Homo sapiens: one gene and its partner. The protein of the gene in region 2 purifies or fractionates together with the protein of the main gene of each other region. This does not show direct contact. Each region holds a gene or a part of one and is shown on either strand. Other genes may lie near its edges. The genes, in order: ANXA13 and MSI2.

The links.
Region 1: the proteins of MSI2 (region 2) and ANXA13 purify together in Homo sapiens (affinity purification with mass spectrometry; 3 studies listed by BioGRID and IntAct, with this or other methods). This does not show direct contact.

Annotation. Positions count from the first base shown.
Region 1 is NC_000008.11:123,728,785-123,744,571, reverse strand, and holds the start of ANXA13 (annexin A13), read left to right. Parts: upstream 1-7,178; 5' UTR 7,179-7,237; coding exon 7,238-7,252; intron 7,253-8,694; coding exon of another isoform or gene 8,695-8,817; intron 8,818-15,787.
Region 2 is NC_000017.11:57,249,554-57,265,352, forward strand, and holds the start of MSI2 (RNA-binding protein Musashi homolog 2), read left to right. Parts: upstream 1-6,969; 5' UTR 6,970-7,189; coding exon 7,190-7,251; intron 7,252-7,388; exon of another isoform or gene 7,389-7,443; intron 7,444-7,465; exon of another isoform or gene 7,466-7,494; coding exon of another isoform or gene 7,495-7,544; coding exon 7,545-7,585; intron 7,586-7,912; coding exon 7,913-7,994; intron 7,995-8,716; coding exon 8,717-8,801; intron 8,802-12,597; coding exon 12,598-12,639; intron 12,640-15,799.

The DNA of each region.
Region 1 (15,787 bases), on a different chromosome or scaffold from region 2:
ACCCCAGCTATGGTGACAAGTTCAGAGATGAGGATGAATCCCAACGTGAGCCAGAGAATCACACCAGGTTCTGTATTCAAACTTATGGGGAAAAAAGCTCTCATTTCCTTTTCACTAGTTTTGGAATTTTTAAGCATGAAAACATTGATCCGCAAGCCAATATCTTGCCTTTGAAATGTGGAATCTCTTTGAGAGGGGGGAAAGAAGCACTTGAGAGATGGAGAGAGACAGTGGGTCTCCAGGATATATTTTGAGTAGCTGGATCCAGTTATGCCTGAAGCTAGCGCGTTTTCCAATTATGTGAGCCAAAAATTCAATTGTTTGCTTAAGTTGTTGTGAGTCAAGTTTTCAGTCACTTGCAACCTACCTTCCTAAACCGAAAGTGTTCATGGTAAATGTAGAGATGAAGCCCAACTGCTCTATTTACATAGTACAAAGCCAAGAACTGGACAGAGTGAGTGACTCTGATGTGATCACACACGTAAGTTGTAGCAGAGACCACCCTAAATCCAGGGGGCTTTGCTGTCCCAGGGCTGTGGTTTTTCTGCCACAAAATGCAACATTACATTAAGATGTGGTTTTGCTTATACGGATGTTTCATTTCCCCAACTAGAGCGTAGCATCTAAAAGGGTGGGGTGAGAGCTGTGTCTTGTATTTTTGCTATTCCCTGTAACTCTGCTTAGTGTCTTGTACATGGGAAATGTACAATCAGTATTTGCTAACACACCCATGAGTTTCAGGTGGCATTTTGTTCTATGTTATTTTTATTTTTGTACATGCAAGATGAAATGTGTGACTTTCAGGGTTTTTACTACTGGAAAAATATAGGAGTATACTTTCAGCGACTCTAATGATTTCCTGCAGATTTCAGTCTTTTCATCTTAGTCAAGCAATAACTTTTATAAAGTAGGCATTATATGAAGACACTGTGGGAATTAGTTAAGCAATAGTCCTGTTTCTGCTCTTAGACATTTATTAACTAATGGGGCGAGGGGAGACTATGCACAAACATGACAGAAATCCTAACATTTTTGCTTTTTCTATGTGGAAGAAAGTACCTGTCCCAAAATCAACTGTAATTTGGGGGTTTTAGCTAAATTACCTTACATAAATAAAATACTACGAATTCTCCCTGCAGAAAGAAAAATCAGGCAAGTGTTCAGCATTTAGAAAATAAACATTTATGTGCTTTTATTTTAATTAATATTGTATGACTATAAGAGAATCTGAATTACTTGTAGTCTTAATATCATATAATATTTTCCCCAAAGTATTTCTAAATGGAAATTTTATTAAATGCAAATTACACAGCATAATGTAGTTGCTGTGATTGTCACAGCAATCAATGAGATTTTTGCTTTCTGTTTAAGGTGTTTTAGTTTCCTAGGGCTGTCATAACAAAGTGTCACAAACTGGTGGCTTAAGACAACAGAAATCTATTGTCTTACAGTTCTGGAGGAGAGCAGTTGAAAATCAAGGACCAGCCTGAGCAACATAGCAAGACCCCAGTCTTGAACTCCTGATCTCAAATGACCTGCCTGCCTCAGCCTCCCAAAGTGCTGGGATTACAGGTGTGAGCCACCACGCCTGGCCAAGACCCCATTCTCTTTTTTTTTTTTTCTTTTCTTGAGACAGAGTCTCACTCTGTTGCCCAGGCCAGAGTGCAGTGGTGCAATCTCGGCTCACTGCAAGCTCCGCCTCCTGCAAGACCCCAGTCCCTAAAAAAAAATTGTTCGGAAAATTAGCCAGGTGTGGTGATGCACGCCTGTAGTCCCAGCTACTTGTGTGGTGGAGGGCTAAGGCTGGAGGATCACCTGAGCCCAGGAGTTCAAGGCTGCAGTGAGCTATGACTGTACCACTGCACTCCAGCCTGGATGACAGTGAGACTCTGTCTCAAAAAAAAAAAAAAGTCCAAAATCAAAGTGTTGGCAGGACTGTGCTCCCTCTGAAACCTGCAGGGGAAAATTCTTTCTCTCCTTTTCCTGGCTTCTTGTGGTTGCTGGCAGTCCTTGGCATTCCCTGGCTTGCAGCTGTAGCATGCCCATCTCTGCCTCCATTGCCACATGGCCTTCTCCCTGTGTGCCTGTAACTTCATATCGCATTTCCCCCTTCTTCTACGGACATCCATGAAACCATTCTGTTTTTCACTTTCAGTGCAGTATTCAATAAATTACATGAGATATTCAACACTTCATTATAAAATAGGCTTTGCGTTAGATGATTTTGCCCATCTATACACTAATATAAGTGTTCTGAGCATGTTTAAGGTAGGCTAGGCTAAGTGATGACATTCAGTAAATTAGGTGTGTTCAATGCATTTCCAACTTAACGATATTTTCAATTTATGATGAGTTTATCGGATGTAACCCCATTGTATTGTAAGTTTCGGAACATCCTGCAGTATAGAATCTCATCCCACCATTCTTTCTACTAACTAGCAGGCTGATGTTGGGTGAGATATTGTCACTTTCCAGGACCGGAATTTCCTAATCTATAGAATGAAGGAGTTGGTCCAAGTGATTTGTCTCTTCTGGTCCCCCTTGTCCATTTACAGATTCTCCAACTTTCTTTTTTTCTTTTTTTTTTTTTTTTTTGAGATGGAGTCTCGCTCTTTTTGCCCAGGCCGGACTGCAGTGGAGCTATCTCGGCTCACTGCAAGCTCCGCCTCCCGGGTTCACGCCATTCTCCTGCCTCAGCCTCCCGAGTAGCTGGGACTACAGGCGCCCGCCACCGCGCCAGGCTAATTTTTTTTTTTTTTTTTTTTTGTATTTTTAGTAGAGACGGGGTTTCACCGTGTTAGCCAGGATGGTCTTGATCTCCTGACCTCGTGATCCACCCGCCTAGGCCTCCCAAAGTGCTGGGATTACAGGCGTGAGCCACCACGCCCGGCCCACATTCTCCATCTTTCATACTTTTCCAGTAGCTACAATTAAGCTCATAGCATTGCAACTTCAGATTTTACAGAATTTTAAGACCCGGGAGCACCACAAAAGTTCATAAACTCTTGGTCTGCCGATAGAGCCCATCATAGAAGGAAGGTGAGAGAGGCAGAATGTCTCCCACCTTTCAAGGGGAGTGGGACACCGTTGGCTTGAGGACTGGACAATTCTTTGCTGTGTGGGACTGTCCCATGCAGTGCAGGATTTTTCTTATCCCTAGGCTGGGCTCCAGTTCCCACTCCACCACTCATTATGGCCACTCAAATACTCCCACACACATTACCAGCTGCCCTATCGGTGGGCAACATCATGACTTTGAGAACCAAAATCCAAGAGATGTAAAAAGCAGATGTAGCCCAGTTGACTAGAGGAACCTATTACACAGCACCTGTTATAATTTATGATCACTAAATATTTACAACCATACAAAAAGCCCTCCCACCTGTCTTGTGCCTTCTCTTCACCCAGATCGTGTCTTCTCACACTTCCTTCCCAGATAGTTTCCTCCTTCTCCCCTCTGGGCCTCCAAGCATGCATCCTTCCAGAAATGGCCTGAGGTCACAGGAATGTTCCTTCCTTCCCCACTGCTGCTGTTGCTGGTAATTATCCCAGCCACCTTCCTAAGTACCCATCCACCTGAGGAAGGAGAAAAGGAGGGGCACTTAGGGAAGCACCATCTATGTCAAATCAAAACCTGACTATGGCCAAATCTAAATAGTCAATAGGTGTCTACACTGGTAGAGATGTTGAAAAGTAAAAAGACACTCCTGCCTCTCAGCTGTCTATCTTTCACCTGGAGCCATAAACTGTATCTCTTCCTTAACTAGGCATTTCCTGTGCTCAGTAACTCAGCACCCTTGAACAGCACTTATCTCTACAATGAGCATTGCACATCAAATTGCCCTGCCCCTTGTGACCTCTGAGATGTCACTACTCAGGGGTCCCTGAAGGACGTGGTTAATGACACAGAGGTGGGACACAGAGGACGTGGCCTTGGGAAGTCTGGGCTGGCAAAAGGAGACAGAGGATAATAAAACAAAAATTCAACACTAAAGAAAAAATAATAGTGAGTGTTCAAAGCAGTGGTCATTAACCTACATCTTCTTCTCTTCTCCCTCATTCTGCTGTCAATTCCTGGAGGAGAGTTTGTCTTGCCCACCACTATATTTCCACACCAGGCACCCTGTGTGGCACCCAATAGTCTCCAGTCTCAATGACATCTTTTATTTTCTCCAATTCACAAAGCTCTTTCCTATGTTGAGCCTTAGCACAAGCTAAGAACATCCAATTTGGAGCACTTTCTCTTTTTAAATGATGAACTCCTTCTTTTAATTCACAGCTTCAGTGTGAGCTCCTTGAAAAGCCCTTTCTTCATTTAAAGCAAAGTACACACACACACACGTGTGCACACACACACATACTCTTATGTGCACACACACACACGGGTTACTCTTTATTCTAGCGTCCTGCTTATCTTCTCCATAGCCCATATGACAATTTATAATTATTTATTTGTTTGTTTCTTGTATAGAAATTTGACTGCAAGTTCTAGGAAGGGAAAATCCATATCCATCCTGTCCGTCTTTCCAACAATTAGCACATCCAAGGCACTCAACAGATAATAGTTTAAAGAACAAAATAATAAATATATAAAATCAGAATTTAATAAACCTATACAAAATTTTAATTCTATGTTACATAAGAAATTAGCTTTAAATAAAAGTGGCATCTTAGACCAATAGTGGAAAAGTGCATTATCCAGTAACTGTCTAGGATTGACTGAATAACAAAAACTAAGCTGACTCCCTTTGATATAGTTTGGATGTTTGTCCCCTCCCTATCTCCTGTTGAAATGTAATTCTCAATACTGGATGTTGGACCTGGCAGGAGGTGTTGAATCATGGGGGTGGATCCCTCATTAATGGCTCGGTGCCATCCCTTTGGTGATAAGAGAGCTCTTGCTCTGCGTTCACACATGATCTGGTTGTTGAGAAATGTGTGGCACCTCTGCACTTCCTCTCTTGCTCCTGCTCTTGCCATGAGACATACTGGTTCTCCATCACTTTCCTCCATAATTGTAAGCTCCCTGAGGCCCTCCAGAAAGGAAGCACCATGCTTCCTATACAGCCTGCAGAACCATATGCCAAAATAAAACCACTTTTCCTTATAAATTACCCAGCCTCCGGTTCTTTCTTTATAGCCATGAAAGAACAGCCTAACACACCCTTCCTTCCTTAATGTATGTCAAAATCAATTCCAGATGAATCAAAGATATAAGCCTTTGAAAATTAAGCCATTAAAAGAACTTGGAGGAACACTTATGCAAGAAGATTTAAGCATCTTAATGCAGAAATGGTTTTTCTAAGCAAGTCAAAAATAAAAGACTGATATATTTGAATACATCAGAGCTAATACTTTCTTCACATATATACCCTCAAAACAAACAAAGACAAAAGATAACAAACTGGGGAAAAATAATTGTTACACTTCATGAAGGCCTAGATTTTATTATAAATAAAGTGTTTTACAAACAAATAATGAAAATACTAATAACTCAAAAGAAAAATAAAGACCACAAACAAGCAAACCACAGAAAAAAATACACAAATGGCTTTAAAGAAATGGGATATACAATTTCCAGGATATCAAATGAAAGAAATGTAAATTTAATAAAACACCATGTTTTTATCTTTGAAGTTGGCAGAAATGACAAAGTTTGACAATATTTAGTGTTAGCCAATATGTAGGGAAAATCACACTGGTATATTCATATAGTGGGAGTGAAATTTTCATTTTTTTAAAGTAAGCCTCATGGATCAGCTGGTCTTTAAGAGTGGTCCAGCATTTTATGTCAGTGTGGAGGACAACTTGGCAACAGCTATCAGAATTTTCAGTGCACATAGTCTTTAGCCAGCAACTCTATTCTAAGATTTTATTCTACAGATAAGAAAGCACAACAAAGATGTGTATGAGATATTCATGCAAAAGATCAAAAACAATCTAAATGACCTTCAACGGTAGACTGATGAAATAAGGTTTGGTTCATATCCATAACAGTTGACTACATGGCCACTGAAAAAGAAATGTGCCAGTGTCAAATATCTCTTTAGTATATGAAATATACACTATATTAAGTGAAATAAGCAAGGCACAAAAAGACAAATATCACATGTTCTCCCTTATAACAAATATCACATGTTCTCCCTTAAATGTGGGAGCTAAAAAATTGATCACATGAAGGTAGAGAGTGGATAGATGGAGAAAAGAGACTGGAAAGGGTGAGTTGCGGGGGAAGAGGAGAAGTGGGTTAAAGGGTACAAACACACACTAAGATGGAAGGAATAAATTCAGTGTTGGATAGTAGAGTACGGTGGCTGTACTCAACAGAAATCTATTGTACTCAGGCAAACACTCTCAATACCCTGACTTGATCACTACTCATTATATGCATGTAACAAAATGTCTTATGTACCACATAAGTTTGTACAAATAAAAAAAGAAACATGTTGTAATAATCTCAGAAAAAAAAAGGAAAGACAAGAAATATGCAAGGCATGGAACAGAATACATTGTACAAACCCATTTGGTGAGGAAGAAAAGACAAGTTGGATCAAGATAAACAGAGAGGTAGGTAACTAGACAGGCAGACCGACGGACATAGCTGAATATGCATGGACCACTTCAGGAAGGACTCACGGAAAACCTCTGGGGGAAGGAAAAAGGAAGTCAGTAGGCCGACTTTTCACAGGACCTTTATGTATTATTAGAAACAAATTTACCATCTGCACATATTACTTTTTAAATTCAAAACTCAGTAAAATTTTTTAAATGATCTAGTGTAATGCAATGTAGCCTTCGAAAAATTCTCTGTAATAATAATAACAATGTTAGTAAAAAATAGTAATATTTTTCTATTTGGTTAATGCTTTCATTACTAAAAGGCATAATATTTTAAATGAACACCAGAATATGAAAGAATAACTCAACAATTCAGAAGTGAGGCAGGTTTAGTCTTTTAGGTGGGAAGAAGCTATTCAACTTTAAAAGCCTAAACTTTATTTATTAAGAAGTATATTATTTTAAAAACATGGGTACCAAGGAAACCTGGGCAGTCTAAGTTTATCTGTAGCTAGAGCCACTCCCTACCCATCCCCAACAATGTATTCAAATTCAGTGCCAAAAGTTACTTATTAAACACAAGAGATATTATGTCCGGGGGGAAAACTGTTGTAAACTTTGCCTGTAGGAGGACTGATCTCTTGATGAAATACAGAAAAACCATCTCAGAAAAAGGAAAATGGGCAATCGTCATGTAAGTACTCATTGCCTTTGGGAATTGGTTTTAATTTTGGTTAGCATGTGGAAGAATTTAAACTATAAAATCATGACTGATACTTGTATACTTTATCACTATGGTTACCCTTTAATATTGGTTTTAGCAACAGCATACCATGCTTTTAAAATGCATTGAGGCCGGGTGCGGTGGCTCACACCTGTACTCCCAGCACTTTGCAAGGCCAGAGTGGGCGGATTACTTGAGGTCAGGAGTTTGAGGTCAGCCTGGCCAACATGGTGAAACACTGTCTCTACTAAAAAAATTAAAAAAAAAAAAAAAGTTAGCTAGGTGTGGTGGAACATGCCTGTAGTCCCAGCTACTCAGGAGGCTGAGGCAGGAGAATCATTTGAACCTGGGAGGCGGAGGTTGCAATAAGCCGAGATTGCACCACTGCACTCCAGCCTGGACTACAAGAGTGAAACTCCGTCCCAAAAAAAAAAAAAAAAAAGCACTGGGGATATATTATTCCCTTATTGGCCAAAAATCTCTTAAGAGGGGCTAAAGAGAAAGAAGTATGTAAAATAAGGCAGTAAATAGTGCCTTGCAGAGAGCAAATGGTTAATATGTATCTGTAGAATGTATAACTAAAGCTGTTAGTTTGTAGCAAATTTGTATAAAACTTCATAAACTAAGCCCATTCAGAGTTATGTGGGAAAGATAGGTTCATGTTGCAAATATTAATAGACCAAGGTAAATACTCATGTAAGTCCACACAACTTGGATTGCAAGGTGAAAATATTCCATTATTATTTCTAAACATCCACATATTTGCAAATATCCATGGAATGGACTTAATAATTTACATTTCTTTTGAAATGTTTAGGCTCCTGAATAGTGTGTCTATAAATAGTTAATGACTAAAAACTGACTAAAACACTACCTTTTGGAACCAACTACACACAGGACAGATCAGAGTTGAATCTTGAATATTTTTTACATTGAAGTATATCTAAAGCTATTCCAATACAAATCTTAATAAGGTTTTGTGTACCTGCTGTAAATTTCCACAGCAAGAATGATATATTTCATGCACACTATGAGCAGAGAATAAAACTCCAAAACTTTCTGTAAACTGTTACTTTGTCTATAAGGTTTTTCCTTCGCTATATATTCAAGCTGCACTCAGATGTTTACAAACTTACAAATATATTCTTAGGAAAGGCATTGTTTTTCAAATCATCTACAAATAGCATTTTCATACCAGCAGAGATTATGAGCCATCCGTTCAGTGTATCTTTCAGAGAAACTGAAGCCTATTTTTCAAATATTTCTGATAGATGCAGAGGACCCCAGGAATAATCAATGGACCCTGCATTCACAGCTTAGGAGGATAATTTTGTCTTTTGAAAGTCAACCTAGGGAGCAGCTGGCCTTTAGGAGTGGACCAGCATTTTTATGTATTTTTTTTTAATCCTCAGAGCCAGTCGTACACCCTCTCAGAAGGCAGTCAACAGTTGCCTAAAGGGGACTCCCAACCCTCGACAGTCGTGCAGCCTCTCAGCCACCCATCACGGAATGGAGAGCCAGAGGCCCCACAGCCTGTAAGCACTTTATTTTCCCCCCAAATCATAGGTATGACCCCTGCTCTGTCATGGGGCCAATATGAGCCCCCAGTGATCTGTCATGTTGGACCCTCCACCAGCCACCAGCCATCATCAGGTGTGACTTCCAAGCAGGGAAATCTTTCCCTGCAAAAAGTTTGTTACTGTATTTACAGGTAATGTAAAAATGAACTCTTCTAGGGGCTTAGTTTCTGTTCCCAACAGTGTCTCATTAACAACTCCTTGAAATCAAGCACATGAGGCTACACCAGGACCACTATGACATTTCAGAAAATAGTAAAGGAACTCAACATGTGCACAAAGAATGAATACATGTAAAAAAGTAAATACAAAATCTTTTTAAAGAACAAAAAACTATCCCAGTAATGGCTTAACTTATTTGCATTAGAAAGTTACTTGAATATGTACAAACAAAACTAGAATGCTGGTGGTTTTGAAACAGCTACACAACCAAAACAAATATATAAATTAAATGATAATGTTATAAGTCAATGCTGTTTAAATGTATGTCATCAACATAGTGTAATAGACAATGTTATTTTGTTGAGATTCAATAGCTGTGCTCAACATGAAATGGTCCCAATGGCTATAATGCTGGGTTTGTTTTTTTTTTTTTTTTTGAGTTTTACTTGGTTTTTGTTTTGGTTTGGTTTGTTTTCTGAATCTCAGCAAATCTAAAATATGATGTGGTATGTGACTTCTGAGTTCTTTTATCATATTTCTCTATTGAACCTACTGAGACACTTTTGTTTGTAAGCCTCCTTGTAATGCCGTGGGACCTTCTCTCGGCTTACACACATGGTGTTTCTATTAAATCTCCCTCTGTTCACTCTTCTTTCATCATTAGCCTGCAATTATTGAAGTATGGCTGTTTGGCATATAAACAATCGTAAATACAAACACAAATGCAGACATTTAAATCATGAGCCAGGACTTGGTCATCTTGATGATCTAGGATGCTTTATATTAATTTTTAAGTTATTATCAGCATGAAATGCAAAAGACTCCTAGAAAAGTTTTTATTCCCCCAAGAATATGTCCACAGACCAGGGCCCATAGATAATTGACAACTATTATTGCAGAGCCAGTAGAATATTGGCCAGGAAATTGCATTTTTCAAGGTACTATCATCTGAAATCCTAACCAATCCTGAAACGAAAATTACTTTTGTGCTATCCTCAATTCTTTTGCCACTATTAATGATTTTTTTGAACCAAAGACCTAGTGTTTGTAACTAACCTATGTGGAGCAGCAGTAACCAAGATACTGGGTCATTATCATCCGCCAAATCACACAATGTTCAAAGAATTTCCTTATCCTGGAGGACATGTCCTTGTGTCCAGTGAGCTTTGCAGGTAGAGTGTACACAGAGAGAAAGATCAGATCAGTGGAAAAATCTGCTTAGGTTTAGCTAGATGACTCTTCTATTGTCTGGGTTTTCACAAGAATCACTATCTAGGGAAAAATACAGAAGTGAGATCAATATTAAGATTACTTTACCACGGGAGTGTGGCTATAGGATATGTGCAGAATGACAGAGGGAGGGAGACCTAGTAGAGCCATTGATAAATGTGGAAATAATCACAAACTCAAATGGACTCATGATTTCTGGGAAATTACTTGCAAGGCTAATGAACAGGCAATAGAAAGGACTACAGCCCTGCTACTCAAAGTATGGTCCCTGGATTTGTAGCAGCATCCACATTGCGTGGGCACTTGTTAGGAATGCAGATGCTCAGCCCACTCAGATCTATTGAATCATAGTCTGCATTTTAACAGACTCTTCAAGTGATTTTCAGGCACATTAAAATCTTAGAAGCACTGGACTATGGAACGCGTTGTCAAACTTGCCTGCATTGAGATCACCTGAGGAGTTCTAAAAGCCACCGATGCCTGGGTCCCAGCCCTAGAGTCTGAATTAATTGGTCTGGTGGTTGTCCTGCGCATCAGGGTTTGTAAGTGCTCCCCAGGTGGCTCTAATGTGCAGCAGAGTTTGAGAAACACTGGACTGTAGAATATGGCTAACCTTTCAAGAAGAGCTCTGCACACTGGGGACAAAGGCAGATGGTCATTGCACATGCTCCTAACTGAAAACCGATTTGTAAATGTTAGAACATCTGTTCAGTGGTCTGCCACGTTGTTTGTGAACATGCCAAGTTTATGACTTGCTTGTGCCAATATTTAGCCAACATAAATATTGTCTCCAGTGGAGAACAGTTTGGGACTTGTGGCAGGTGAACACCAGGCAAGGTGAACACTCAGATGAACGTGGACAAAGAACATCTGAAAGCTGCATGACAAGTGGGGAAATAGATCCAGATTCCTGAGAAAAGAAGACAGGCTCTGGAGGCAGGTGAAATATGGCTGAGAATTTGAAATTAAAATAAGTATGGTCTTAACCAAGGGTGTGCATTAAACTGTGATCCCAAATCCAGAAGACCCATGATCAAGCCCTAGCAGAAAGCAGTCTAGATCATTTCAAAAGACTTAAATAAATAAATAAGATCCTTATTTATTTATTTATTTAAGATCATCTTAAATAAATAAGATTAGGAAATATTACTTTTTTTTGAGACAGGGTCTTGCTCTGTTGCCCAGGCTGGAGTGCAGTGGCACAATTATGGCTCACTGCAGCCTCAACCTCCCTGGTTCAAGCAATCCTTTTACCTCAGACCTCCAAGTAGGTGGGACTACAGGCATGTGCCATCATGCCCAGCTAATTTTTTTAAAGACGGGTCATCCTATGTTGCCCAGGCTGGTCCCAAACTCCTGGGCTCAAGCGATCCTCCCACCTCAGCCTCCCAAAGTTCTGGGATTACAGGTGTGAGCCACTGCACTTGACCTCAGGAAATCTATTATCCCAGAAAGTTAGTCCTTCAGAATGCCACTGCAAAAGTGTAGGAGGAAGTGAAAAGGGCCTTTGATGTCAAAGCATGACATGCACCAATGCATACCTTCTTCATTTAAAGACAAGTCTCTGAAGGGTAGCTACATTTTAGGTACAATTATGCAATCTTGGCCTTTTGGATATTTTGTCTATGGTGGATGCAAAAAAAAAAAACAAACCAGCCATTGTAAGGAGGTGGTAAGAAGTCGGCAGAGGACAGATACACTGATAGAAGGAAGAACATGTTAAATGAAACCTCAACACAAGAATTCTAGAGCCGCGGGAGTCTGGAGCCACTTGGTGCAGGGGAGAGAATCCTGCATGTCCCAGCAGCGTGAGCCCACCTCCCAGTGCTACAGCCACAGCAACAGGAACCAAAACTAAAACTCCCAGTGGTGATGGTTGTAACTGGAAGTTTAAACGAGATCTTCTGAAATGTTAATGATAATAACTGACATTTATAAAGTGCTTACTAGACTGTGGGCTGTTTTGAGGGTGTGAACAGTGACCCTGGAAGTTTGAGTCCTTCACGCCACCAAGCACTTCACATGTGTTACGTCATTTGGTCTTCACAACAATCCTATCAGGGAGATACTATTATTAGTCCCCTTTTAAATATGGGGAAAGTAAGGCAAAGAGAGTTTAGGTAAATTGTTCCTAGTTGGACAGCTAGTAAGAGGTCAAGCACAGATTTGGATTTAGGCACAAATTTTTAACACTATGCCTTGGGTTCAATAAAGCTTCTTTTTACGCCAAATAGAAGATTAACCTATTGGGATTTCTGAAACTGTTGAACTGAATCATCACCTCGTCATCTCTTTAGCCCCTTCCCTGAGCTTTCTCCATCCCCTGCCCCCCAAGCTGGATTGGATGCTCTTCCTTAAGGCTTCCATAGTTCTCTCTGCATAACTATTACTCCACTCCCATGTGGTTTTAGAACCATCTGGGTTTTTTGTTTTTGTTTTGTGTTTTGAGACAGGATCTCGCTCTGTGGCAAAGGCTGGAGTGCAGTGTCACAATCACTGCTCACTGCAGCCTCAGCCTCTCGGGGTTCTCCTACCTCAGCACCCCCATACCCCCAAGTAGCTGGGACCACAGGCGAGCATGACAACGCCCAGCTACTTTTTAATTTTTTGTAGAGATGGGGGGTCTTCCTATGTTGCTCAGGCTGGTCTAGAACTCCGGGGCTCAAGAATCCTCCAACCTCAGCCTCCCAAAGTGCTGGGATTGATTACAGGTGCGAGCCACTGTGCCCAACAGAACCACCTGTTTTGTATACCTGCCTCACACTGGACTGATGGTTTCCTGAAGGTAGAATTGTATTTTGTTCACCTATATATCCCCATCACCAACACAATGCCTGCAGCATGGTAGATGCTTAATAAAATTTGGATAAATTCATCAATGCATTCATTGCATTTTCTAAATAAATCTTAAACAAATCAGTGTTTTGCCCAGTTGGAGTTCAAATTCTTATATCTATTTACATTCCCAGACCAATTCATGCGCAAGGCCCTGGCGTCTGTATATTTTTAAACTCCCCAAATGATTCTAATGTATCCAAAGTTGAGAGCCACGAGTCTAACGTCAGGTATTCTAGTGCAGTAGTTTTCAAATGAGGTCTCCCAGGCCCGCATCATTGGTATAATCCAGGATCTTGTTAGGAATGCAAATTCTGGAGCCCCACCCCAGATCTACAGAATCAAAAACTCTGGAGATGGGATCCAGCAATCTGCATCTGAACAAGCCTTCCACGTGAAACTGATATGTGCTCAAGTTTGAGAATGACAGTTGAAGCATAAGCCTTTCCCATGCCCAGGCTGGGGCTGTGCCTCAGCATTGACTATGGGGAACTCCCACCATTCAACCTACAGAGATGCCCAGATGATGGCATTGAAACCCGGGTTAGCACCACACCTGCCTCCTCAGGCTTCTCACCCGGAATGCAGCCCGGAGAACTCCCCCATTCTGCTCATTTCCCCACCCCACCCAGGGTTCCCTCTCTCCCTGCTGCCATGTAAGATGTGACTTTGCTCCTCCTTCACCTTCTGCCACAACTGTGAAGCCTCCCCAACCATGTGGAACTGTGAGTCCATGAAACTTCTTTCCTTTATAAATTACCCAGTCTGGGGTAAGTCTTTATTAGCAGCTTGAAAATGAGCTAATACAGACAGCAATAATTGGATTTAGGAAATACTCTAAATCCAGGATGATTTCATTTTGAGATCCTTAACTAATTACATCTACAAAGACTCTCTTTCCAAATAAGGTGAATTCTGCGGCTGTGAGTAGACATGAGTTGGGTGAGGGGGTGGGGGTGATACTGTTCAACCTACGACACTAAGGAAATTAGATTTTATTTCCTTAGGCCAGCAGTGATTTTAAACTTCAGCACATTAGAGTTCCTTGGAAGGCTTTCTTAAATGGAGAGTTGGGTCCAACCCCCAGAATGTTGATTCAGTAAATCTAAGGTGGAGCCCGAGAGTCTGCATTTCTGAGTTCCCTGGTGATGTTGGTACTGCTGGTCTAGGAACTACACTTTGAGAACTGCTGCCTTAGGCATAGGGAAGCCCAAGTCAGAATCAGACAAGGGAGTAACAACTTGAGTGCTGCTTTTAGCTAGACCATGCTGGAAGCTAGTGGAGAAGGGCTTGGAGAGAAACATGACTAGAGGCAAGTCAAGCACTTCGGAAGCAGTGGCCCTGGAGAGAAATGAAGACCCTCTGCCACCCTCCACCCTCATCGGCTAAAATAGCAACAATGGAACTGGGGAGAAGGTAGATCTGAGTCAAACGAACATAACTTGCTAAGTGGATGTGGGAGGTGAGGGAAAGGAAGACGACAGAGTGACTCCAGGTGTCTTGTCTAGTTTGTGTGCACAGGTGGATGGTGGCACATCCCAGGGATGTAAGGCAGTGACAGATTGAATTTGGTTTGGGGATCTATAGAGTTTGAGATATCTTTGCGAAGTATGAGTTCACAGTTGTTTTTGTTTGTTTGTTGGACAATTAGTATGTGTTTGATCGAAAGTAGCACACCACAGGACTCACTTTGGCTTAAATAACAAAGACATTTAATTGTCAATTCTAACAGGAGCTCTGAATTAAGCTGATTCCAGTGTTGGTTCAGCAGTTCAGTACATCATTAGGGACCCAAGCTATGTCTGCCTTTCTGTCAGACATACTCTGGATGTATTAGCAATGTCTCCCCACCTAGGTGCAAGATAACTGTCATGTGTTCAAGTTAATGATCTCTCAAGATAGTCACAAGCAAGAAGGAAGCAGATAGAGGGAAAAAATACCTTCTTGCTTATGTACATCTCCCCTATCAGGGAGGAAAATCTTTCTGCAAAGCTCCAAGCAGCAGACATCCCTTTCTATCTCACTGGCCAGAACTGGTCAAAAGCCCAACCCAAGACTGGCAAAGAGGAAGAGGAGAGCCTTGAATCATAATTCATCCCTGAGGCTGAACAAATCATCTTCTCAGTTCTCTCTCTCTTCTTTCTATGTGTTGGCCTCTTTCTCTCCTACTGAAAATAAGCTTTTTGTTTTCCTCGTATGGGAAGCAAAAGGGGCTGGTGAGAGGGAGGCATGGCCATAGATAGTTCAGGCACCAAGAGAACTCCATGGCCTCACATAGCTCCAGATTAGCAGCCTCAAGGAAAATCTCTTCTTTCTCTAAGTATCTGTAAGATGTCAGGGAAGAATTCCAGTTGGCTTGGGTCATGGACCTACCCTGTGAATAATCATAGTAAGTAAGGTTGGCCTTATCTTTATCATCACCGCTTTCTTATAACTATTATATTTATTAATATACTACTGCTATTACTACTACCACTACTGATACTAATACTACTAGATGGACTGAAATAGAAGGAGGATGCAAACTTGAAAATCAGATAGAAAGGGAGAAAATAATTCTCTTTCCAAATAATGGGGACTTGGATGGTTGTAGTAGGAATGAAAAGGAAGATAAAATGTTAAAGATAATTTTAAAGAAATAATAGACTAAAAATTAATTAATTAACTAAAAGAATTAATTTTTTTGGATCCAATGCATAAA
Region 2 (15,799 bases):
ACATTTCATATAAGTACCAAAAGACAATGAGAGGGATACTTCATTTAGAGAATCCCAAGATTATGCATATACAATGAGTATTGAATCAGATAAAGAAGAAGAAATTCATACTTGAATATAGCAGAGTAAAAATGTAGGAAGCCAAAGACAAGGAAAAAGTCTTAAAACCAGAGAGAAAAGACAGATTACCTACAAAGGAATGACAATTAGACTCATAGCAAATGTTTCAGAAATAAAGAATAGGAAGACATGGTATATTCAAAAAAGTGCTGGGGTAAAATAACTGCCAATCTTGAGTATTACACCCAGAGAAATCATCATTCAGGAATGAGAGTGAAATATGACATGTTTGTCTTAGCGGAGAGAGCGTACCACTCAACAATCCCCTGAAAAAAACTAAAGGTATGTTTCAGGGGAAAGGGTCTATATCTAGAAGGAAATTGGTAAATAAGGGCAAATCTAAACGATGAATTGACTGTATATAAAATTACAATAGAGATTAAAATTAGGGGTATAAAAAGTAGGTGGATCTAAAAATAAGCAACAGTAAAACATAATGAGAGGATGTAACTGAAGTTGAATCATTCTTAGCTTATTGGATAGTTCTAGGGCATTTGATTTACTTTAGATCACATGTACAGGTTAAAATTGTAATCACCGAAAGAGTAGAAATAGAATTTACAACTTCCGGCCAGACACAGTGGCTCACGCCTGTAATCCTAGCACTTTGGGAGGCCAAGGCAGGCAGATCAATTGAGGTCAGGAGTTCAAGACCAGCTGGCCAACATGGTGAAACCCCGTCTCTACTAAAAATACAAAAATTAGCTGGGTGTGGTGGTGGGTGCCTGTAATACCAGCTACTCGGAGGCCGAGTCAGGAGAATCGCTTGAACCCAAGAGGCAGAGGTTGTAGTGAGCTGATTGTACCACTGCACTCCAGCATGGCTGACAGAGTGAGACTCTGTCTCAAAAAAAAAAAAAAGGCCTCGGCCTCCCAAAGTGCTGGGATTACAGGTGTGAGCCACCATGCCCGGCCAATAGCATCTCTTATACATTGCTAGTAGGAGTACAAATTGGAACACCACTTTGGAAAACAGCTTAGTATTACCTTGTAAAATTTTACATTCACGTATGTTACGACCCAGCAATTACTCCAAAGAGAAATTCTGATCTATGTGCATCAGAAGGTAAAAATGTTCATAATAACACTGTTTATAATAGCCAAAAAAAAAAAAAAATTCCTGAAAGCAACCCAAAGGCTTGTTTGTGAGAATAGAGAAACTAAACTGTGGCACAGTCACATAATGGAATATTATACAACTGGGAGAAAGAATGAACTACAACCTGATACAAAAATCTAATTTTGTTCCCCCCACCCCCCCAGGGCCCTGGCTAGAGGATCTAATTGATTCTTAATAATTTCATATTGAGTAAATTATCAAGCCTCAGAAATTTTTCATAAAGTTTCAAAACAAAAAGTAAAACAAAACAAATATTAGTCATTGATATGCATGATAAAACTTTTTAAAAAGCGAAAAATCATAACAAATACAAGATTCAGACTGGTGGTTACTTTAGAGGAACAAAATAGGGAGGAACACATAAGCAGATGTTACATAAGTCAAGTCATTGTTTCTGTTTTAGTTCTCTGGTTGAATAGCAGGTTTACAGGTATTCATGATATCAGCAAATAAAATAAAATAGGGCCATGAGTATACACAATGATGATAGTGTGTTATACTAGAGATTGTGACTAATATATTTTTGTGCCCCTAAATTGTGATATTTTGTGATCTTTAAAAATATCAGCAATCACAATAAATGTAAATGGACTAAACTTACTAGTTAGCACAATAATGAACCAGAGCTAACTATATGCTATTTACAGGAGACTGAACAAAAAATTTGGGACATGGAAAGGTTCAAAGTAAAAGGAAAGAGGGAAAGAGAAAGATCTATAAGTGAAGGGCTAATTAAAAGAGTAGTTACATTTATTACAGACAAAGTAGACTTTAAAGCAAAAGGCATTAGGGATAAGTATCTTCTGTGCCAATATTAAAGGAATAATTCCTAGGAAAATAGCAAATCTAAGCTCGTATGCACTGAATAACAAGGCCTTAAAATACACAAAGCAAAAAGTATGAGAAGCAGAAAATGTATAGTTACAGTGGGAAATTTTAACAGTTCTTTTTGATGCACCTGACAACATACTTTTAAAATACAGCAAAATTTGAGAGAATTACAGGAGAAACTGGCAAATCTAGTCATATAGAAATTTTAATGTACTTCTATAAAAACCAACAGGTCAAGCTGACAAAATATTAGTAAGGCTACAGGAAATCTAGACAATATAATTAATAAGTCTGATCTAATAGACCCATATAAAATGCTGTACTTAAAAATTAAGGCATATACATTCTTTTCAAATCTACATGAAATATTTATAAAAATTGACTGCACCAAAGCAAGTTTCAATAAATAACAAAGAATCTGCTTCATATAGATCACATTCTTTGACCTTAATTCAGTTAAGTTAGACGTTAGTAACTAAAGAATAACCTCAAATACCCCTCAAATACACCTGTATTAATTCACTAGTCAAACAAGAAATCGTATCTGAAATCTAATTTTTTTTTTTTTTTAAACAGGATCTCGCTCTGTCACCCAGGCTGGAGTAGTGACATGATCATGGCTCGCTACAGTCTCAACTTCCCAGGCTCAAGTGATCCTCCCACCTCAGTCTCCTGAGTAGCTGGGCCTATAGGTGCATGTTAGCACACCTGGCTAGTTTCTAGAAAAGTTTTCTTTTGCAGAGATGGGGCCTCACTATGTTGCCCAGGCTGGTCTCAAACTCCTGGGCTCAAGTGATCCTCCCACCTTGGCCTCCCAAAGTGCTGGGATTACAGGCATAAGCCATTGTGTCCAGCCTAAAATCTAAACTTTTTTTACCTCATTGGTGATAAAAAGTCTATATATCTTGTGGAATATAGCTTGAGTGGTACTTAAAGTGAAATCTGTAGTCTTAAATGTTAAAATCAGAAAACAGATGGCTAAAAATTAATTACCTAAGGCAACAATTCAAAAAAAAAAAAAAAGAGCAACAGAATAAATCCAAAAAGAGCAGAAGCAGAAGGGAATACTATATGATATATATTAATATTACATTACATATTATATTCTCACAAACTATATAATAGTATATATTTTCTATTGTGCCATATATAACAATATAATATATAATAATATATAAGAACAAAACTTACTGGAACAGAAAAAGAAACAATATTGAAACTAAAGTCTGGTTCTTTGGAAACACTAATAGAAAGTAGAAAGAAAACATTAGTAAAAAAAAAAGATCTCTGGCACAGCTGATCCAGATAAGAAAAAATACATATAAAATGATATTTAGAATGAAAAAAAAACATTATGGATAGATAGAGCAGAGATTAAAATACATTAAGAGATAACTATGAACAGCATTTTGTCAACACATTTGAAAACCTAGATGGTATGGATAATTTCCTTGAAAAACATAGTGTATAAAAATAGATTCAAGAAGAAAACAGAAAACCTGAAGAGATCTACGAGCATTAAAGAAATGGAATCAGTAGTTAAAAATCAACCCACGAAATGTCTATCCCAGACCCAGACAATTTACCTGCAAAACTACCAAACATTCAAGGAACACATAATTCCAATCTTACACACACTGTTCCAGAAAATGAAAAAAGAAGGAACATTTACCGGTTCATTTTATGAGACCAGTATAACCAGACAAAGGCAGTAAGAAAAGGAAAAACTGCAGCCAATTTGACTTATGAACATGAATACAAAAAGAATCCTAGAATGAAATTAAATGTTGGCCATCATTCATTCATTCATCCACTCACTCATTCAGTCAATCATTATTTATTGAGCGTCAACCGTGCGCCAGCAGGCACTGTGCTAGTACATGGAGAGCAGAAAGGCACGGGAGCTTCTGGCTTAGAGGAGATGGGCAATAAAGCAAATGATCATACAGGGTAAGGTACACAGAGGACGTTCTGGTAAGGTAACTGCATATCAAAGGGCATTCGACCCTGTCAGAGAGGTCTGGGAAAGATTTCCAGGCATGTAAGTGGAGTAAGGGTGTATGTGGGAAGACTGTTTTGTAAGCTGTTGCAGGGCCTCAGGTGGGAGATCTGGGATGCAGCAGCAAGAAAGATGGATTTGAACTTGGGCTTCCTTTAGAAAGGCTAAGTGGAGATGTTGAATAGGAAATTGACCAGAGCCTGGAGCTCTTCAGGAAGGGTGGGGCTGGAGATTTCAATTTGAGTGGCATCACCATGTGTTTAAACCCATCCTGGAAGATTGAGTTTGAAGAAGGAAGTGTCCAACATTGTCTTGGGCTGTTGAGACTTTCAGAGGGTTGAGGACTGATATTGTGCTGCTTGAATTCTCCTGATGCAGGGGCTACATTGAGTGAGCTGGAGAAAAAAAATGCATAAAATAATAATAATAATAATAATAATAATAATAATAAGCTATTACAAATAATGTAGAGCAAAGGGGCAGCAAGAGGGAATTTTTTTGGACAATGAAACTGTTCTGCATCTTGATTATGGTGGTGGTTACATGACTCTATACATATGTCAAAACTCATAGGATTACAGACCAAAAAGAGTAAATATTACCGTATATAAATTAAAAATAAATGAGTAAAAACAATGTAGTAATGGAGACTTAAAATCCAGTTCTTTCTAAGCCCTGACTTTGTAACCGCAGCTCTAGCCCCTCTCTGGATTTTAAATCAGTTCTATAAGTGTCAGCTTGTGGAGGTCTATACCAGACAGGAAGGGCCCCCAACTCTCGCCTTGTGAGGGACAGAATAAACACGCAGGCAGCAGAGGCCACACGGCATTGGACTGATGGTCAGAGGGTGGGGGTGGGGTGTAGCCTGGTGAGTTTGGCACCTCTGAGACGCTGATGTATAATGAGGGGATTAGATTAGGAAAGGCCTTTCTACCTAGGATGGCCTGTGGTTCTACTGTAAAAATCCCAAACACAATACAATTAGCTCTGTTGTCTGCATTTTGTTTAGAATAATCAATCATAATAAACAATCATTGTAACAACTGGCTGTTCAACACATGAGACCCCAGATGATTTGGGAAGGAGCTTGGAGTGACAGGAAATGTTTGGGTTTGTGGTTTAAAGCCTTAGAGCACCTTCTCAATATGATTATATTGAGTAGTGATTGATAATAAACACGACTCAGGTTTACAGTGAAAAAGGAACTTTTACAACATTGGTTCACTTCAGCCTCTCACCTTCACCACATCAATCCTGTCAAGGAGGAATTACTGCAATTTAGGGAACAGGGAGACTGAGGGTCTGGTCACTCAAGGCTATGGCTGGTGTTGAGATTTTCCCAATATTCCATTTTTCCAAAGCCCACAGTGGATTTGGTTCAGTTTTGGTGTTGAGTGTATTCCTTTGTCTCCTAATCCTATGAAAATTAATGGAAAAGTGTTAATTGGGCATCAATTCATGCTTAACATTAATCTCAGTATTTGATGAACCACAACTTTATGTTGCCCCTCATGCCATATTAACTCAGTTTATTGCAACAATTTAAAACGATACAGATTTAAAACAATATGGGTAATTGTATCCGTATTGTTTCAAATGCCCCATAAATTGAAACCAGCCCGAATTTGGGCAGTCTGGAATCTGCCGGAGAAACTTTCATGCGATGCCTTTGGAAGGCTACAGACATTGTCTTTTTGGAGTTTTCAGTGCATGAAGGTATGAAACCGCATTTATTAAGCACCTACTGTATGCCAGAACCCGTGCTGCACAATACTACTGCTGCTAAGGTGGGAGTGATTCTGAAGCCTTCTGCCACCCTAGCTACCTCTGCAGGTCGTGAGGGGTCTTGGGCTATTTCAGTATCATGCACTTTACTATCCTGGCATACAAAGGCTGGGTGAGAAATAAAATATATAACGAACGGATTACACAGGGGTTTCCTGAAATAACCACCCTTCCCATCCATCCCAGAGACACCCCAAAAGTACTTCTCGTTATATACAAACATTTGCTTTGAACCTCAATCATGTGACCTTGACTCCTATAACCTATCTTATTACATTTTTAAAACACTGTATGATTAACGCGGAAACCCTTTCTTCGGCACTTTCTCGCCACTGGAATCGCGTCAGTTTCTCAAAGTTCCAAAATAACCTTTCCCGGGCACGGATTGGTACCTCTACTGGGGAAGGGCGGGGAACCGCGCAAGACGTGCCGGTGTGGAGCCAGAGCCAGAGAGAACTTCCAGCGCAAAAGGAAAATAAAACTTGTGGCTGGTGTTTGTGCAGGAGGGTCTCCGCCATCCTGAAGCCCCCCGATCCTGGGGCGTCTCGGGGGCCGCCAAAGGAGCGCCAGGGTGTGGGTTTGCTCCCGACGTCCTTGACCTAAATTTCTGAGCGGTGGCTGGAAACAGGGCACAGCGGAGGGCGGGCGGCTGGTGCCATTCCCGGATCTCGGCGGCAGGGGCCGGCAAACTTGAATGGAGAGGGCGAACTAGAGAGGGTGGGGGGCGTCTTCTCCCAGGTCCGGGTGAGGAGCCGCAGCAAGCTCCCCGCGCCTCCCCTCCCCCGATCCACCCGCCCCCCGCAGCCCATGTGATCCAGGGAAGTCGGGGTGCGCTCCCCCTCGCCCTGCGCCCTGCCGGCCCGGAGGCGGGGTCCCCTCCGCCCGCGGGGTTCGCGCGCCACCCTTGTGGGTCCGGCCGTGGGGGGCCGAGTGTGCGCGCGCGGGCAGGCGGGGGCCGCACGGGGGTGCGTGACGTCACCGGCATTGGTTACACGACGTTCTAGAACTCCGCCCCACGTGCGCCGGGGAGGAGGGGGAGGAGGAGGAGGAGATGGGGGTGGGGAGGAGGAGGGGGAGAGGTGGGGATGGGCCGGGGGGGCGGGGACGGGGGGGTGTGCGAGGCAGCGGGGCTGAGCTAAGCCGAGCCCACGTGTGACGGCTCTCGCCGCTGCCCCGGCTCCGCCGCTCGCAGAGAGATTCGGAGGAGCCCGGGCGGGGGGGAGGAGGAGGGGGAGGAGGGAGCGGAGATCTCGGGGCTCGGAGCCGGCCGCCGCTCCGCTCCGATCGCTGTGGGGCTTGGTTTTTTGGGGGTGGGGGGGCGGGGGGGCTCAGATATGGAGGCAAATGGGAGCCAAGGCACCTCGGGCAGCGCCAACGACTCCCAGCACGACCCCGGGTAAGTTTCCAGCCGCTGCCCACCGCGCCGCCTTGGGCTCGCTCTCCTTGCAGCGGCGGGGACGGCGGTGCGCGGAGCCGGGCATCTCCCGCGCCCCCCCGCCTCTCCCGCGCGCCCCCCCCGTGGAAGTTACACACCTTTGGATTGCATTTCGCCGTCACCTTCTCCCCCACCCCACCTCCCGGCTCTCGCTCGCTCGCTCCCCCCCGCTTTCCTTTTAGCTTTTGTAAGTTACACGTCAAAATGGCCGATCTGACATCGGTGCTCACTTCTGTTATGTTTTCTCCCTCTAGTAAAATGTTTATCGGTGGACTGAGCTGGCAGACCTCACCAGGTAAGGGAGGGAGGGGGGGACGCCTGGGTCCCCCCCTTCTTGGCTTCTTTATTGCTCTTTGTTATCCCGGTGTAGGAGCCCCCCCCCCCCCGCCATTGGCTCCCCACTTCTCCTGTGCAAGGTTATTTTTTTTAAATAGCAAATCCTTTCTGAGCCCTCTATGCGACCTCTGTTGCCGAATTTCCCCCGCGTGTGCAAAAAATGCAAAAACAAAACAGAATAACAACAGAAAACTACTTTTGGATTTTGTCCTTGATCAAAATTTGCATTGCTTTTTTTTTCCACACCTTCTCTCCCCCCCCCATCTCTCTCTTTCTCTCTCTACAGATAGCCTTAGAGACTATTTTAGCAAATTTGGAGAAATTAGAGAATGTATGGTCATGAGAGATCCCACTACGAAACGCTCCAGGTAAACCATTCCCTTCTGGATTTTGTCTTTATTTTAGAACAAAGTTTAAGTTTTATTTTTGGAGGTGTCTTCGGAAGTAGCTAAGCGGATTAGAATGGGGCTCAGGCGCGTGGCTGATCTCGAACGGCGCTCTATACCACCCCCACCGCCCCCTAGTAACCCCAGAGGTTATTGTTAATTGGAGCTGAACTCTGGATACAGAGATACCCATCTCTCTGCTTTTAAGTCATTTTCCCGTCGCTTCTTTTTCTCTGTTTAAAATGACATTCAGCTTCATTTACTTTCGCATAGTTTTTTTTTTTCTTTTGATCTTAATGTGTGTTTCCCCCACACTCCCAGCTCCCCAAACTCTTAAGATCCCTCTTAGAAAGATGGTGGTAAATCTCTTCTAAGTGCCGGGCTTTCTTCGGAATAAAACAAAGCGTTAAGAAAGGGAAGGGGAGGAGGAGAGGAAACTGAGGTGGCCAAAGAGTGGAGGCACCAGCATTTTCCAAGTTACCTCCACCCTCCCTGCCCCCGTTCCACTTCCCCCGTTAACCTTGATGTTTTTTCTTGCGAGGTGGAGGGCTGTAGGCAGGAGGGGAATTGGAGGAGGGGAGTGGGAGGTGGGGGTGCGTGGGGGGCAACTTTTGCTCCTCATTCAGCCTTAGGTCTCACTCCTGGTTGCTTTCAATGGTGTCACATTTTCTTGTTTGTTTTTCTCCCTCTTTGTCTCCTTTCAGAGGCTTCGGTTTCGTCACGTTCGCAGACCCAGCAAGTGTAGATAAAGTATTAGGTCAGCCCCACCATGAGTTAGATTCCAAGACGGTAGGTTGCTTTTTGTTGTTGTTGTTCGCCCCTTTTCAGGAACGATCTGGGCATTGACAGCCCCATTTAAAGGGACAGTGCCTTCTTTTGCTTCTGTGCTAGAACTGGGTAGTTTTAAACTGAGCTAGCGAGTTGGCTCAAAAGTTTGCTGCTGTGGCTGGCTTTGGGGTTTTCTTTTTAGAGCCTGTCCCATTGCAGCTTCAGAGGCTGCCAAGGTTAGGCTTGGGGAGGAGAGGGTTCGGCTCCTGGAGAGTCTGCCTTCCCGGCCTGGGGACTGTGCAGAGAAACTCCACCAGAGAGCAAATGCAACTTTTCTTTGTCAGCCAAGCACAGCACGCGTTACCAACTGTGGCTGTGGGGATCAGCTTTGAGAAGGCACAGCCTGCTTTGTGGCCAAGGGGGACAGCAGTGGGAAGGAGGGGAGAGGGCGCTAATTACAGGTCCAGGCAACAGGTTTCTCTTGGGGCACTTGGGATTTGGAATGTGCTTTGGGAAGGGAAGGGGACGCTGGCGGAGCTGAGCTGGGCATCCACTGGGGTGACTCCAGATGGCATGAAATCTAAGGCTGATAAGGCCTGGGGGTTTCAAAGTGATTTTTTTTTCCTTCCTTTTCTTTCTCAGATCCTTTCATTTGAGTATGGGTACTTTTATACATCACAAGTTTTAAAAATCCAGAGTAGAAGGGGGAAGAGTCTCCAGGCAGAGGTCAGAAGGGGAAGGGAAGAAAGAGTGTCTGTATATAACAATACATTTAATGGGAGGGGGAGTGTGCAGTGTTTTATTTAGCCCCTGTGTGGGCTTCCTGCCTCTCCTCCCTTCCCTTTATGTCTACCAGAGTTTCCCCACGGTTTTTATTAATATATATCTGCCCCAAACAGAGGCCTTAAGATGACATTGGGCTGTAGTGCTGGGTTGCATGGAACTTCACTCCTCTGTGATGGGGTAGTGGGACAAGGCCAGAAATGGGGCTCTACTTCCATCCGCCTCTTATGAAAGTGAGCAAGACATTCCCTACCTCTGGGTCTCAATTTCCTCTTCTGTAAAATAAGTGGACCAAGGTGATCTTTCAAGCCCCTTTTGGCTTTAACATTGAATGGAAGAGAAGGAAAGCAAATAAAGAAACCTGGCAACCTTCGGTGCACTTGAATTGATTTTGCAAATTCACCCTCTTTCTCTGATCAAAGAGATCAGGAATGCGTGCCTTCTCCTAAGAAAGAAACCCACCTACACTCTTAGTTGCTTTATTAATTGTCCTGGACTTGTCATAGCTTGCATGCAGCCCAGCCTTTTGTACTTTTAGATAATTTAATTTCAGAAATGATTTGTAGGATGATAACAGATGTCTGAAAAATTTTTCTCTCCTTGATTTCGTGGCTAGCCATTTCAAAAAGCTAGTGAAATTAAAGAGGAAAATCTTTTCAAGGCAAATTTGGGAATTTATCATCCACCCCCTCTTGCTACCTGGGTGGGAGAAACAGTATTTGGTTTCTGTGGTGGCTGGTGGGTCATATTCCTCTGTATCAGGTGCAAAGCCTGCAGTTTCCCTCTCTGATTGTTTATAGACATGTTTTGGTCACTATTATTTAGTGTAACCTAGCTTTTGACTTTGTTTCAACGTTCAGTGCAGGAGGCAGAAGCGGTTGGTTTATTGACATGGAAACGAGGATCTTGTTTACTGTTACCTTAAAAGCTTTGTTTAGGTAACGGCCATTCACATCCAAAATAGTACCCTAGTCTTTTCCTAGAGGACTTGTAGATACAGTAAGTAGAGCTGTACCTAACTAACTAATGTTTTAATTTTTGGTAGTTTTCTTTTTTGTTTGTTTTTTAAAAAATAGTTGACAGGGATGTGCAAAAGGTTGGGATTTGCCATGCTTAACTTGACCCTTCCTCTCCTTCAGAGATCTCAGCGTGTAAACTTTGCACACTGAGGAACTTCGATCATGATATAATGCTCTGATACGGCCACACACCATCCAGGAGTTCTGAATTGGCTTTTTCGTTTTGTGATTTAAATTTTCTTTAGTACTTCACTTTCTTCATTGCACCTTACTTCTTCCAGCTCCTGGCACCTCCCTCAACATACCCCACACCTGTTACCCCATAAACAAGGTGATTTCTGATTGCAATTGTGTGCCGGCCAACTAAAAAAAACACCCTCTGGGGAGTATTTATAAAAAGACACCTCTGTCTTACGTACGTCAACAGAATGGAAAATCCACACCTGTTGTATTTCTCTTGTAGACAAGCGCTAGTCAGTGCTGGACACACCTGTAGATGCAGTAATGTTAATCTTTATGAAAGGGTAGTTTTCTAGATCAGAGATTTTTGTCTATTTTAGTTTTTGAAAAGTAATCTCTCATTTCTCAGGTGATGTTTAAAGGTAGGGAATGCAATGCAGACTTTTATTAGGTCTTTAAGCCCCCGTAATAACAGCAGGAAATCCTCATATGTCTTTCTGGCTGGGACCCTAGGTGATGTAAGTCAGGGAACAAATGAACTATCCTCCGTGCTTCCCACTCCCCACCCCCACCTCCCTACTTTCCTCCACAGCATTACTCTTTTCTCCCCTGCTCCTTCTCATGGCAGAAGTGAAAACAAAGCTCAGATTTACTTTTTAAAAGGAAAACATTTTAATATGAAAGCCAAAGCCTGGAAATAAATAACTGGTAGCATGTTTATACTATCTGTGTTACATTTTTACCCAAAGATTTGTGACATTTAGAAATTCAATGAAAACCGACAACGGGAATATTTTCACATTTCTTTCCTCCTCTTTTTATCTGTGCAGTCACTTTTTTCCTCCCTCACATCAGCCTGTTAGATTCACATGCTTCCAGGAGAACTGTTCTGAGCTGTACAGCTAGACCCTGATTGAGCATCATGCGTTTTGCAAGTGTGTGATTTGGACTGGAGGATGTTTTTCCACTCGGATTGAGGTTGGGGTAGGGGAATTCCCTACTTGTTGCACTAGATTCTGACTACTTCTTGTATTCAGTAACTTTTTTTTTTTTTTGGTGCCCTCCCCATGATGGGATTTCTTTTCTAATTTGGGTTTAGGTTGCTTATAGATTTTTACTCCCTGTTGTTTTTAAAATCCAGGTGGATTTAGCTCACATGCTTCATTTTCTTTACTTCAAAAAATTATTTTTTATCTTTTGAGGTATAGCTACAGAACAGATGATCTTTTTGGTTAATCCTGGGTAACTTTACTTTTGCTAAAATGAATTAATTAACTCAAGCAGAGCACTGTGTTGGATGTCTGTGGGGAGTTTTTGGATGTTGTTGATTTAAAAAATTTTTGGAAGCTCCTTTCCCTCCTGTGTTGTTTAGTTATCATCAGGGAGAAGAAATACCATCCAATTACCTACTGCTAGAGAATACTTACATTTAATTTTCAGGTTATGATTTTTTTCCCAATGATAATGATGCTCCCATCTTTTCTCCCAGCCACGCATAGCAAATTAGATGTAGATACCATTTAATATTCAGTGTCTGGAAGAAGAAGCCCTTGCCTAAATAAGAATTACATGAGATCTGGTTTATTAAGAGCATCACACACTGAAATGCATGGTGGGTCATTTCAGAAAGGCTAGCTAGCTATGTTAGTTACCTGATCTGTTGGAGGGATGGTTAAAGTTGAGATCAAAGTTTAAGAAACTTTTGAGTTGCCTGAGAAGTTACTAAAAGCTGGATTATAAGCCTGAGAAATGAGTGATTAATAATTAGGTGATTAATCATATATTTTTTCCTTAAAGTACTTTATTGACTCCTGCTTTTCTATTTTTTTTCCCAGATTGACCCCAAAGTTGCATTTCCTCGTCGAGCGCAACCCAAGGTAAGTAGGAGAATAAACAGTAGGATTTTAGCACTCAGAGATGATTGCCAAGAATTTCAAATTTCAAACAGCATTGGCCATGAACTGTTGAAGCCTGGTATTCACTGTTCCTTCGGGGTATCAGGACAGGCTGGGCAAGTAGTCCTGTGAGATAACCATGCGTCTCTAAGTTAGCCATCCCAAGGTGGCTTCTGAACATCCACCTGGGGGCAGGGACAAGTCTGATGCTTAGTGGGAGGACGTGTTTCCATCGACTGCAGTATTTTTTGCAAGGATTCTATTTGTTTTTTAAGCATTTCCAATATCATATCAGGAAAAGTCGAACATTTCCTTGTGACTCTTTCGGAGGGTACTCTTTGAGGCTTTACAACTTGGAGTTAATGCAGAGGAGTAGAGTTTGACTAAACAGCTGATCCTTTCTTGGAAAAGACAACTTCTTAGGCCCATAAAGCCTTAAATCTGGGAGGGCAAGCAGTGGATATCTTGGTTTTAGGTTGGTTGGATAAGTCAGGGCATACTTGAAACCAACAGTGCTTCTTATTTGTGCAAGTGCTGGTGCCTGGGTGGAGAAGTCCTGAAAATGTTGTAACCTTGTAGGAGTGGCACTACAAGACTTGCTTAAAGAATTGAGATAGGGCTTCACTTTTTTAGAAGTGTGTCGTTAACATAGTTTTCACTGAGCTTGCCAGGTGTGGCTATGAGAACACAGTTGCTTGAAGCCTAAGGTTAAATTGGAAGGGCTTATGGCTTACATGTTACATTTACACTTTTTAGTTACTATTTTTCTTCCTTATGTAGCACTGGAAGAAATGCTTTTTATGTATCTTCGGGATTTGTCATTCTTTTAGGGAAAGGGGAAAAGTTGAAGCTTCTAAGTCGGAAAAGGTTGTGGCTTTAGCAAATTCAGTTTATTTCTTTATGCACAGTCTCCCAGAAGTGGAACCTTTTAATCGTGTAAAGAGAGGAATGGTTTTGCACATTAGTATAGAAAAAGTTGGTGATTGTGATGGTACTTTGAGAATTTCAGGTCTGGGGCATACCACTTGATTGATTGATTCCTTCCTTCCCTCCTTCTTTCTCTCCCTCCCTCCTTGTTCTCTTCTCCCTTTTTTAAAGATGGAAACACAACTTTTTAAGTAAATACAATGAAATATTTTCTTCAGGCATTTTTTTGTAATGCTTAAGCAAATGATAGGAATTAATGATTAGGTTATTTTTGTACTTAGCACAAACTTTGGAATTGCCCTTATTGTTTTAGTTACTTCCCAAACTGTCTGTGATCCTTCACATTTCAGAGGGCTTCCCAGAGTTAGCAGTATTTCCTGGGTTTGGAGGAATTGCTGTTTCTTCCATAAGTGTGAATCTTCAAATTTCCAGGTTAGTCATTTGATCACTCAGAGCTTGGATCAGATTACCCAAGAGGGAAGCTGGAAAAATCCCTTACTTGGTAAAACCATGGGTTTGACCTGTTTTTCTCTCCCCTTTGTTGTCCCCCTTCCTTAACTTTGTTTTTAAATGAGAAAAGCAATATTTCACTTTAATACACTCTGCAGTGATGCATTCAACTTGAAAACGAGACAGAATGTTTCTCAAACTTGTCAAAGTGTGCATTCCTTTCCCAACCCTCAACTCCACATCTGGAATGTTTGTAGGTGAATTAACATGAAACCACTTGGGGGAGAACATCTTTCCATGAATTCTAGGGATTTAATAATAACACCTTACTGTGTATGACATACTTCACTTTACGGAGGACTTGGCTGTTCATTATCTCCATCTGAATTCCATCTCCTGGGGCATTTGGCTGTTGTCCCTAACCTTCTCTCAGTCTCAGTGTGCTCATCTGTAAAGTAGGAGTGATGACATAGCTCTCCCAGAAGGTTTTTGTGTAGAGTAAAAGAGCATGGTCTGCGACAAAGGTCTTCGTCATTGTCATTATTTTTCTTGTCGGTTTTCTCATCATTGTTCCGGTTGTTGTTTGCAAGTGGGACAGCCTGGGTTCGGATGCTGGTGGTGCCACTCCTTAGCTGTGTGAATTTGAACAGGTCGTTTAACTTCCTTGAACCTTCGTTTTTCCATCTCATAGAGTTTTTCTGCAGATTACGTAAATTAATAAAGGTAAAGGGACTGAAAAAAAAAAGACGTTGCATGGTAATGCCATAGAAGCGTTAACCTGCTATCTTATTTATTTATTTATTTATTTTTGAGATGGGATCTCACTGTGTTGCCCAGGCTGGTCTTAAACTCCTGGGCCAAGCTATCCTCCCACCTCTGCCCCCCAGAGTGCTGGGATTATAGGCGTGAGCCACTGTGCCTGGCCAACCTGCTATTTTTTTCTGCCATTTTTATTAAGTCCTCACATCAATCCTGTGAGAGGTTGAGTAATAATAATGATACTAGTTGAATTTATATGCCAGGCACTATTGCAGAGACTTTATTAATCCATTTAATTCTCATGCAGCCCTATGAGGAGAGTACTAGTATGAGCTCATTTTGTAAATGAGGAAACGGAGGCACAGATGGATGTCCAGGAGCCATACCCAGGCAACCTGGCTGTAGAACTGGGCCCTTCACCACTGTGCCATGCTGTGGGGGTACCTCAGGGGATGGCCCCTCTGCTATGCGACAGGAGATGGGCTCGGAGAGGTCAGCGGGCTGTGCTGAGGGAACCATAGCCAGAGGCCCAGTACTTTGAAGTTCTGCGTTCCTGGGCCTAGGTGATTTGCCTTGCCCCATCATGTTATACCAGTGTGTGACACTGTCTTGTATCTTTTGATCTGACCCCTCAGGCCATCTTTTCAGATGGTTCTGGAGTTACTCAACCCCAGTGAGGCAACAGAGTAAATGCCAAGGTTGTATGGTGGTTGGGAATTGGGACAGGGTGGGGAGAAAGTGTCTTCCCTGTCTACGGTTATTTTCCAATAGAATTTGAGCCTGGCCACCGGGATTTCAGACTGGAGTTAGCGCTGGGGGCCAAAACCCAGGAGCATAGAACTTTAAGTCGACCCTGATTTATTTATCGATTATCTCCCTTCAATAAAACTTCTGTGTTTTTGTGTTCAGGTCACAGTGGCAGAGGGAACCCTGCCCCTCCTCGTGGGATGGGCGAGGAGCTTGTAAATGATATGTCAGTGTGTGTTTCAGTTAAAATGAGTTTCTC